Linked DNA regions of Homo sapiens. The protein of the gene in region 2 purifies or fractionates together with the protein of the main gene of each other region. This does not show direct contact. Each region holds a gene or a part of one and is shown on either strand. Other genes may lie near its edges.

Evidence for each region.
Region 1: the proteins of SLC25A51 (region 2) and VSIG1 purify together in Homo sapiens (co-immunoprecipitation; one large-scale study listed by IntAct). This does not show direct contact.
Region 3: the proteins of SLC25A51 (region 2) and HTR1E purify together in Homo sapiens (co-immunoprecipitation; one large-scale study listed by IntAct). This does not show direct contact.

What each region holds. Positions count from the first base shown.
Region 1 is NC_000023.11:108,048,036-108,051,691, reverse strand, and holds part of VSIG1 (V-set and immunoglobulin domain-containing protein 1 isoform 2 precursor), read right to left. Parts: intron 1-3,656.
Region 2 is NC_000009.12:37,886,996-37,890,651, forward strand, and holds the end of SLC25A51 (mitochondrial nicotinamide adenine dinucleotide transporter SLC25A51), read right to left. Parts: intron 1,598-3,656; 5' UTR 1,556-1,597; coding exon 662-1,555; 3' UTR 609-661; downstream 1-608. UniProt on the Homo sapiens protein: Mitochondrial membrane carrier protein that mediates the import of NAD(+) into mitochondria. Mitochondrial NAD(+) is required for glycolysis and mitochondrial respiration.
Region 3 is NC_000006.12:86,943,921-86,947,576, forward strand, and holds part of HTR1E (5-hydroxytryptamine receptor 1E), read left to right. Parts: intron 1-3,656. UniProt on the Homo sapiens protein: G-protein coupled receptor for 5-hydroxytryptamine (serotonin). Also functions as a receptor for various alkaloids and psychoactive substances.

The DNA.
Region 1 (3,656 bases), on a different chromosome or scaffold from region 2:
GTCAGATAATTCCAACATCGAACTCATCTTAATGTTGGCAGTAGTTGCCTTTTCTCAGTCAAGTTGTGATTTACTTGATTCTTGGTATGACAGATGATTTTTGATTGAACATTTTGTCTACTATGTTAGGAAACTCATATTTACATTTTTTATTTTTGCAGTCAGTCACATTATTTATGCTTCACATGCAAGCAGGTGTTGGCTTACTTTTGTGGTCTGTTGTTCTAACAGCAGTTTAATTTTCAGTATTGTTTTGCTCTGTTTGGTTTATCGGATATCACTGAGGCTGACATTTGTCCCAGATCATATCGCCTGAAGGAGCAGAAAGGTTTCCCTAGGTCAGGCTTCCAGGTGCCTCTCAGTTGGGGTAGGTATGGTGGGACACTTCTACTGGCGCCCTGCACTGTTGGTGTCTCTATGGGTAGGAGAGGACAGTCATACACCCACTGAGACAGAGCCTTCCCAGACTGGGCCGCTTGCCATCACTTTATGCCTCGTGTCTGTTCTACCCTCCCACCTCGATATCTCTAGGTGAAAGTGGGACATCTCAGGCCTGGGGAGAAGGCAAATGCTTCTTTTGTCCACTGTTGTTGGTGGGGTTTCTGAAGATCCCCCCTTACCTGTGGTGTTGGGCCTACCTGATGTTGTCAGAGGGACTCTGAGGGAGGAGTAAGCTTACCTGGGCTGCCCTCTGTTGTTCAGTTGGGTATCAGGAATGGCCAGGACTAGGTTTCTTTCTTCTGCTGGGTGGGAAACATAGGATACCCTTGCTCTTTGTTTTTCCCTGGGTCTCAAACCAGTTTGCCTTCTCCTTACAACCTTCCAGAGTTCTACCCTGGTTGTCTCTTGCATTATTTCCAGGGTTTATACTTGTGCTTAGCAGGGAGGAACAATGAAAAACAGGTCTGTACTACATGTCCAGACCAGAAATCTCCCTCAGTTTTTAAGAGTGTAAAATTGTCCTGAGACCACAAATTTTGAGAACTGTTGGCCTTACAGAAAGATGAAGTAATTAAGCTCCCCATAGGATTTGGAGGCCCACCGAAGGGCACCCTACCCAAATCCAGCCTGCCACTACACTAAAATTCTCAGTTCTATATGAGCACTTTCCAAAGGGCTATTTTAGGTGATGGCACTTTGGGGAGCACTATACAGTCACTGTCTTATCTTATTAACTGGTTGCTATGCATTGCATTGTCGAAGACTATAAAAGTTCTCCAGGATGGGTCACGGGATTGGCAGGCAAGCACTGGAAGAGAAAGTCAAGTTCAAGAGACGCTCTCTATGCTGTCCTAGTTGCCTGCAGGGTAACAGAGGGTGTTGGAGGGTTGAGGGTGAAGGGATGAGGATACAGAAATTATGAAAGATTCAGAGGAAATTGCATAGAGGGACTAATTCCTGTCCATCTTCCCAATTTTGCATACCCAAAGACTTATTTATTTCATATTTTTCTTACTTAATGACAGCAGTCAGACAAAAAGAACTTAAAGGATTGACAAACACTTTTAAAAAGTAAAAGAAAAAAAATCGTTGTACTGATTACTCTTGGTTTCATGGATTCAATATCTGTGTTCTCTGTCACAGCCAGGTCACCTGGTCCAGCTGCTTTCCTGCCAGAAGCTGGCTGTTTACATGGCAACCAATGCACTGATAAATTAAGAAAAGTGCCTGAATGCAAACAAAAATGCAGCACTTTTTAACTCCATACAGTTTCCCTCTTCCCAATATTCTCCTCCCCATGCTTTCCTGGTTTCCATAATGCCTCCTCCAAAAAGGAAATTGGCTTTCAGAAAGCAGCTAATCTTTCCAACAAAAACTTCACTGGAGAAAGATGGTTCCCTCCCACCCTCAAAGAGCCCATTTCATTTCTCCTGGAAGTTAGCCACATCTCTGGCCGTGCTTAAATGATGACTTCCAAATGTCTTTAAAGTGTCCAAAATAAAAAGGATAAAACTGGGGTTTTGGTAGCCCTTAAAGTTCCCAGACTTATTCCCTAAAAACAGAGATTTTAGAGATATTATTTGGCCATAATTTTTGTTCTCTAGTTTGGGACCCAGTATCTGTTACGAGATTGGTTAAGGGTGAGAATTTATGAACAGATAAGGCAAAACAATAAACAAAACCCCACAAACCCCCTTTGAAGACCACTCTTGGAAAAAGTGTTTGATGGCAGAGTACACACAGTACTCACACAAGTCAAGCCATGGAAGAGGCTGTGGAGCCTAGCAACAAATATCAATTGAGCACCCATTTTGTGCCACAAACAGTGCTGAACACTGGGGAAACAAGAATGAACATGACAGACACAATCTCTGCCATCCCTCAGTGCAGCAGGAAGCCATTTATAGCACAGATGAGAATAGAGGTGAATGAAAATCAAGGATTTGGAAAATATAAATCTGATTCAAACATTTCTAACATTTTAAATATAGAAGATATATAAATGTGTAACTAATTAGAAATCTGCAAAAGTTTAATAATATCACCTTGGAATTAGGATGGTAATTTCAAATTTTAAAGTGAGACAATATTTTTTGAGGTACTACACATTGTCATGTAAATAAGTAACAGTTGGCAAAGCAAAACCTCCAGGCCATTTTATTGCCCAGATTCCCAATTCTTAGCACCATAACCAATTAAATTCTGAAGAAAAGATGTTTTTCAGACATTGTCCAACCATGATATAGTGATGATATGCTTCAGAGCTAAAAGTTATATATTTCCAGATGAGCCTTTTTAAAATGTCACATCATTCAATTAGTGCACATTACTTAAAACCTCTGAGCTCACCCTTACAGTGCTGTCCAACAGAACTTCCTGTGATGATGGAAATGTTCTATCTCTGCGCCATCCAGTTCAGTAGCCCAAATAGAATTATCAAACACTTGAAATGTGGCTAGTGAAACTGAGGAACTGACTTTATAATTTTCATTAATCTGAAGTGATTTAAATTTCAATAGCCACATGTAGACAATGGGCAGTGCAAACTTAGTCCTAAAGTGGAGGTGATTCTCTGAGTGTCAGGGAAAAAAGTTCCCTTCCTTTGGATTAAGTCATTCTAAGTTGAGAAATTATTTAAAAATTGAATAAGTCAGAAAAATCTCTACATCAATAGGACTGTGAATAAATAGCAAAGTAAAGATTAGTATCTGATTTAAACAAAACCCAAGAACGCAATGTCCCTCTCTGACTTGACCAAATTTAAAAACAAAACAAAAATGCATATGTGGTTGAAATATGTGTAATCTCTTTTAAAAACCAGTGCTTACCTGCACGTTGTGCACATGTATCCTAAAACTTAAAGTATAATAATAATTAAAAAAGTGCTTATTATTAAAGAAAAATAATCCAAGATGTACACACTTAATCAACATTTAAAAATATTTTTAGGCTGGGCGCAGTGGCTCACGCCTGTAATCCCAACACTTTGGGAGGCTGAGGTGGGCGGGTCGCCTGAGGTTGGGAGTTCAAGACCAGCCTGACCAACATGGAGAAACCCTGTCTCTACCAAAAATACAAAATTAGCCGGGCGTGGTGGTGCATGCCTGTAATCCCAGCTACTCAGGAGGCTGAGGCAGTAGAATCACTTGAACCCGGAAGGCGGAAGTTGCGGTGGGCCGAGATCGTGCCATTGCACTCCAGCCTGGGCAACAAGA
Region 2 (3,656 bases):
TACTAAAAATACAAAAAAAAAAAAAAATTAGCTGGGCGTAGCCGGGCACAGTGGCTCACGCCTATAATCCCAGCACTTTGGGAGGCCGAGGCGGGTGGATCACGAGGTCAGGGGTTCGAGACCAGCCTGACCAACATGGTGAAACCCCGTCTCTACTAAAAATACAAAACAATTAGCTGGGCGTGGTGGCGGGCGCCTGTAATCCCAGCTACTTAGGAGGCTAAGGCAGGAGAATTGCTTGAACCCTGGAGGCGGAGGTTGCAGTGAGCCAAGATCGTGCCACTGCACTCCAGCCTGGGCAACAGAGCAAGACTCTGCCTCAAAAAAAAAAAAAAAAGTATAAGCCTAACTTTGTCACTAGTCCTAAGGAGAAACTTTTAACCACAAAGTTTTTATCATTGAAGACAATATTGAACAACCCCCTATTTTGTGAGGATTGAGAAGGGGTGAATAGAGGCTTGAGACTTTCCTTTGTGTGGTAGGACTTGGAGGAGAAATCCCCTGGACTTTCACTAACCCTCTGACCTACTCCCCACACCCAGTTGATGGCTTTCCATAATAAGATTGGGATTTCCTTTAAAAAAAAAAAAAAAAGAGGCCAAACTGCATTCTTCTTAGAAGGTCTATTCAGTTGATAAATGGCACTTAACTGATGGTTTTTTCATATAACCTTTAACAAGAACTCATAAGTTGCATTGATTATGCCCCAAGAGATGAGGGACCGATGGTAATTCAGATGGGCACCTCTGAAAAGATTTATCAGTTTTCTGTCCCGTTCCAGCCAGATTTTTTGGAAAACCTTGGGGAAAGACTGAAATTCCCCACCAATCTGAGACTGTATGCGAGTTTTTACAACATTAATTGGAAAAAACAAGAATCCCAACATGGCACCCAATAGACCTCCACAGATAAAATCATTGACCAGATGAGCACTGTGAGTCGTTGCGGTAGGCAGATGCTCCTTAATGGGACCTCGAAGGCCGAAAAACAAGACATTGCTGAGTCCATTCCGGAAAAGAATGGGCACCAAGCCTCGATAATACTCTCCAATTCCATGACATTTCAGTGCCTTGAAAGCCTGGTAAGTGTTGGTAAATTTGTCATGATGCTTGTGGTCTTGAAGCAATGTCTGAACTCTTTCCAGTGGAGTGAAAATTGCTTCTGTTGTCCCTGCAAGCACTGCCGCCACGCCACTGGTTGCAAACTCTGGAGCACTGACATGCTTGTGGAGAAGGCAGGATAAATCCTCATACAGACCAAACATAAGTGCAAGCGTAGTTGTCTTCTGCATCAATGGGGGAAGGATTCCACGATACAAATTTCGAAATCCATCCCTTCTCAACTGAAGTATTGCATCCCGGGTTTTGATGCCATACAGCTGTTGTCGAAAGAGGACCTTCTGAATGGGAAATGTGATTGCGACATTGTTGAAGGCTGCACAGCAGCCACACAAGTAATGCTTCATCTCACCAACATTTGTAATATGAGGTGATATATCTTGTTTTGAAGATGTTAGTATTGGTGGCCTCTTTTCATGAGCTTCTGAATCCATCATGCTGCTTAAGATCTTTCTTTTTCATGAAGGACTTTTTTTAACCTACAAATAATAAATGACAACGGGTAAACCCGTTTTATAGAGAGCTAAACACATGGGCTTTCTCCCTAATCCATCCTCTAATATCTGGACACCACACTTTCCTTTTCAGACTAGATCAGTGATTCTTAAAGCATTTTCAGAAGACCCCTGGAAGTCCCTGAGATCCTTTTGGGAGTCCAGGAGATTTTCCTTTTTCAAACTACATATCTATGTGAGGCTTGATTTTTTGCATATACTTTAATCAAAATGACTTATCACAACAGACTGAATGCAGCAAACAGGAAACTCCATCTTAAGTCAGACATGCAAAAGGCTTAGAAAACTGTAAAATATTTTCTAATGACTGTAAAATCATTAGAAAAAAATGGGAGGCATGAATGTTATTTTTCATGAAAATGTGTTAACATGTAATGTGTTTATCATTACCTTAAAATTCATATTTTAATTTTAAATTCCTAAAGACCCTGAATATCAGTCCACATAAACAAAGGGTGTTTGGGGCCCACAATCATTTTTAAGACTGTAAAGGAGTCCTAACACCAAAAACTTTCAGAGCCACTAGACTAGTTCGTAATTACTGACTACACTATATACGGTATCTATCTATTGTCCTGCTGAAATAGGCCCACATTCCTCCCCTGAGAAATAAAACAGCAAGACATGCACTCATTCTATTCATATTTATACTTCTTTGGTACCTACTATGAACTAGGTCCTCTGCTAAGTTGCTAGAGATTCAAAGATAAGGAATTCACAAACTAATAGAATGTGCCAAGGTGAACAATTACACCAATGTGACAGCTTCTATGATAACCAACCATTGTGGGAACACAGGTAAGGGACACTGAACATGCACCTTGGAAGGTGGAGGTGTGGGATGATGGGGGCAAGGAAGGCCTACAGGTATGTACCATGCACTCTATTTTCATGTATGAATTCTCAAAACAACTCCACAATTATTTTTCCAGTTTTACAAATGAATAAAACCAGTATTCTCTTTTGTTCTGTTCAGGGCACAGCTAGTAACTGGTGGGGTCAGCATTCTGAAATGAAGTCTGAGTGATTCCAGGGCTCATATCCCTGCTACCATATCACAGATGGCAATGACTTTGTGAGGCTGCCCTGGGATAAGAGGTGGCTATACTAGATACTGCTGAAAATGATTGGAACTAAGCCAAAGTTCCACCCCTATAATACACCTCCTTCTGTAAAATGCATGATCTTTCCTTGCCAGTCATCTAAATCTGATTCCTTCTCCCTGAAAAAATCCAGATCCAAATAGCTGGGTCATACAGAATAATTCCCACCTTCCAGTTCTGGTCTTGGAAATCACCTTTATTTGGGGGATAACATGATAACTGTATATTGTATCTTAGATATAATAGAAATATATAGAAACTTCTATATATTAGAAATATATATAAATATATACACACATATGTGTATGTGTGTGTGTATATGAGGCTAAATATTTTTTAATTGGATTTTAATTCCTTAACAGTAAGATACTGGCCAGGCATGGTGGCTTATGCCTGTAATCCCAGCACTTTGGGAGGCTGGGGCAGGAGGATTGCTTGAATCACGAGTTTGAGACCAGTGTGGGCAACATAGAGAGATCCCATGCCTATGAAAAAGTTAAAAATTAGCTGGGCATGGTAGCACATGCCTGTAGCCCCAGCTATGTGGGATGCTGAGGTGGGAGGATCAATTGAGCCAGGGAGGTCAAGGCTGCAGTGAGCCATGATTGCACCACTGCACTCCAGCCTGGGCAACAGAGCAAGACTCTTGTTTCTAAAAATAATAACAATAATTTAAAAATTAAAAATAGTAGTCAGGCGCAGTGGCTCACACTTGTCATCCCAGCACTTTGGAAGACCAAGGTGGGAGGATTGCATGAGGCCACAAATTTGTGCCCAGCCTGGGCAACATAGTGAGACTCTGCCTCTACAAAAATCAAAATAAATTTTTGGGGCATGATGGCGTACACCAGCTACTGGGAAGGTGGAGGGAGAAGGACCTCTTGAGCCCAGGAAGTTCAGGCTGCAGTGAGCTGTGTTCA
Region 3 (3,656 bases), on a different chromosome or scaffold from region 2:
CAGGTCTGTCACTCACAGGCTGCAAAGTTTCAGCCGAGACTGCAGACATCTCAAGGCTCAACTGGGGAAAGGTAACGCTTCCAAGCTCGCTCACGTGGCTGTTGACAAGCCTCAGGTCCCAGCTGGCTGCTGGCTGGAGACGTTCTTTTGCTACCACATGGACCTCTCTATAGGGCTACTAACAAAACAGAGTGCTTCATGCAGATGTTGCAGCTTGCTGTCCTTGGAGCAAGGGCTAAGATTGAAAGATAGCAAAATAGAAGCCAAGGTCTTTTTGTAACCTGATATCAGAAGTGATATCCCATGGCTTCTGCTGTGTTCCTCATTAGAGACAAGTCACTAGTTTCAGCCTAATTCAAGGGGAAGGGATTACACAGTGGGAGGAATACCTACAGGAACCAAATCATTGAGAGCCACCTGAGATACTGCCTGCCACAATATAAGACATCAGAAGCTGTTTGATAAAGACTCAATTCAGTATCACCTCGTGGTTTTATCTCATAGTAATGTTCTCAGACTGAAATTAGATAATCTGTCAAAGAATTTGTAAAATATAAAGCTCTATACAATATCAAGATTTTATTAGTTTTATTAATGCTGAGAATCCAGTTCCACTTTATAGATAGTGATATAAGAACAGCAAATCAATGATTAAGAGATGTGAATTTTACACCTTGCTGTGTGTGTGACCTTGGAAAAGCCATTTATTTGTTTCATACCTTAGTTCTCTCATGAAAGTGATGATAATAACAGACTTACCAGGATAAAATAGATAATAGACAGCCATGCAGCACATTGACAATATTTTGGTCACCCACAAACCACATATATGACAGTGGTCCCACAAATTATAATGGAGCTGAAAAATTCCTACAGCCTAGTGACATCATCGCTATTGCAATGTTGTTGTAGCACAATGTATCGCTCATGTGCTTGTGATGAGGCTGGTGTAAGCAAACCTGTGCTGCCAGTTGTATAAAAGTATAGCACATACAATTATGTATAGTATATAATACTTGATAATAAACAACTGTTACTGGTTTATACATTTACTGTACTATACTTTTTATCATTATTTTGGGGTGTGTTCCTACTTAATTAAAAAAAAAAAGTGAAAAGAAGTTTAACTGTAAAACAGCCTCAGGCAGGTCCTTCAGAAGGTATCCCAGAAAACAGCATTGTTATTACAGGAGATGACAGCTCCATGCATGTTATTGCCCCGAAGGACCTTCCAACGGACAGGATGTGTAAATAGATACAGTGATACTGATAATCCTGAGCCTGTGTAGGCTAAGGCTAATGTGTCTGTATCTTAGTTTTGTTTGTTTGTTTGTTTGTTTGTTTGAGACAGAGTCTCAGTCGCCCAGGCTGGAGTGCAGCAGCACAATCTCACCTCATTGCAACCTCCGCCTCCCAGGTTCAAGCAATTCTCCCACCTCAGCTTCCTAGTAGCTGGGATTACAGGCACTCACCACCATGCCCAGCTAATTTTTTGAATTTTTAGTAGAGACGGGATTTCACCATATTGGCCATGCTGGTCTTGAACCCCCGACCTCAAATGATTCGCCCGCCTCAGCCTCCCAAAGTGCTGGGATTACAGGCGTGAGTATCTTAGTTTTTAACAAAAAAGTGTGAAAAGGAAAGAAAAAATTTAAAGTTTTAAAAATAGAAAAAAGTTTATAAAATAATGTTATAAATAATGAGAATATTTTTGTATAGCTATACAATGTGTTTTAAGCTAAGTGCTATTACAAAAAGAGTCAAAAAGGTTTTTTTAATTTAAAAGTTTGGGGGTTTTTTGTTTTGTTTTTGTTTTTGTTTTTGTTTTTTTGAGATGACGTTTCTTTCTTGCCTCCCAGACTGGAGTGCAGTGGCGTGGTGATCCCAGTTCACTGCAACGTCCGCCTCCCCAGTTTCAAGCAATTCTCCTGCCTCAGCCTCCCAAGTAACTGGGATTACAGGCATGTGCCACCATGCCCAGCTAAATTTTGTATTTTTAGTAGAGATGGGGATTCACTATGTTGGCCAGGCTGGTCTCAATCTCCTGACCTCAGGTGGTTTACCTGCCTCGGCCTCCCAAAGTGCTGGTATTACAGGCATGAGCCACCACACCCGGCCTAATTAAAAAGTTTATAAAGTAAAAAAGTTATAGTAAGATAAGGTTAACTTATTATTGGAGAGAGAAAAAATGGTTTTTACAAATTAGGTATAGCTTAAGTGTACAGTGTTTTTAAAGTCTACAGTAGTGTACAGTAATGTACTAGGCCTTCATATTCGCTCAACACTGACTCACTGACTCACCCAGAGCAGCTTCTAATCCTGCAAACTCCATTCATGATAAGTTCCCTACACAAGTATCCCATTTTTTATCTTTATACCATATTTTCACTGTACCCTTTCTACGTTTAGATACACAAATACTATTGTGTTACATTTGCCTACAGTATTCAATACAGTAACATGCTGTCTGGCTTTGTAGCCTAGAAGCAATAGGCTATGCCACATAGCCTAGGTGTGCAGTAGGCTACACCATCTAGGTTTGTGGAAGTACACATCTTGATGTTCACACAATGATGAAATGGCCTAACAATGCATTTCTCAGAATGTATGATGCATGGCTATATATAAAATTATGCTGAAATCTAAAAAAATGAGATGATGGTCATAATGACAATGATGAAGATGACTATATGTTTCAGCTTCTACTCCATGGTCCTTTGAGGACAACTGAAGTAACTAGATATGATTTTTGTCAGTTGTGTTTTAAGTGTATGTATCAAATCCAGCTACCCCAAGTTTTACAATAACTTTATATGGTTTAATCTTATCTTGCTGAACACATTAGATATGCTGCCCTGAAAAGTGGCTTGCAAACAGAATTTTTAGAAACTGAACCATAATTAAAATGCACAGAGGCCGGGCACGGTGGCTCACACCTGTAATCCCAGTACTTTGGGAAGCCAAGACAGGCGGATCACCTGAGGTCAGGAGTTTGAGACCAGCCTGACCAACATGAAGAAACCCTGTCTCTACTAAAAATACAAAATTAGCCATGCGTGGTGGCACATGGCTGTAATCCCAGCTACTCAGGAAGCTGAGGCAGGAGAATCGCTTGAACCCAGGAGGCGGAGGTTGTGGTGAGCCGAGATCGCGCCATTGCACTCCAGCCTGGGCAACAAGAGCGAAACTCTGTCTCAAAAAAAAAATGCACAGAGAAGGTTTCCATGTATCTAGTGGAATTGTACAATGCTTATGTGATCTTGTGATATCATTAATATTTTGTAATATAAATAATTATCCTCATTATTTTAATTTTCTGGCATTGTAGCAACACCTGTATAAATATTTATAGTTACTTAAGAACTCACAAAACAACCTTTTGAAGTAGGCAAATAAAACCAACTCTTGGTTATCTCAAAGAGTTCTTTTTGTTTGATTCTTGTGTTATCTACATTTCTTCTCTCACTGTAAATTGGCATAAATTTGGCAGATACAAAACAAGTAAAGTTCAAACTCCTCCACTCAACCACTTTAAGGGATTTTTTTTCCTGCTTATAAGTATATCACATGTTCATTGTAGAAAATTTGGAAATGCAGAAAAGTATAAAAAATGTAGTTAAAGTTACTCTTATTGCCACCACCAAGAGGCAGCCACT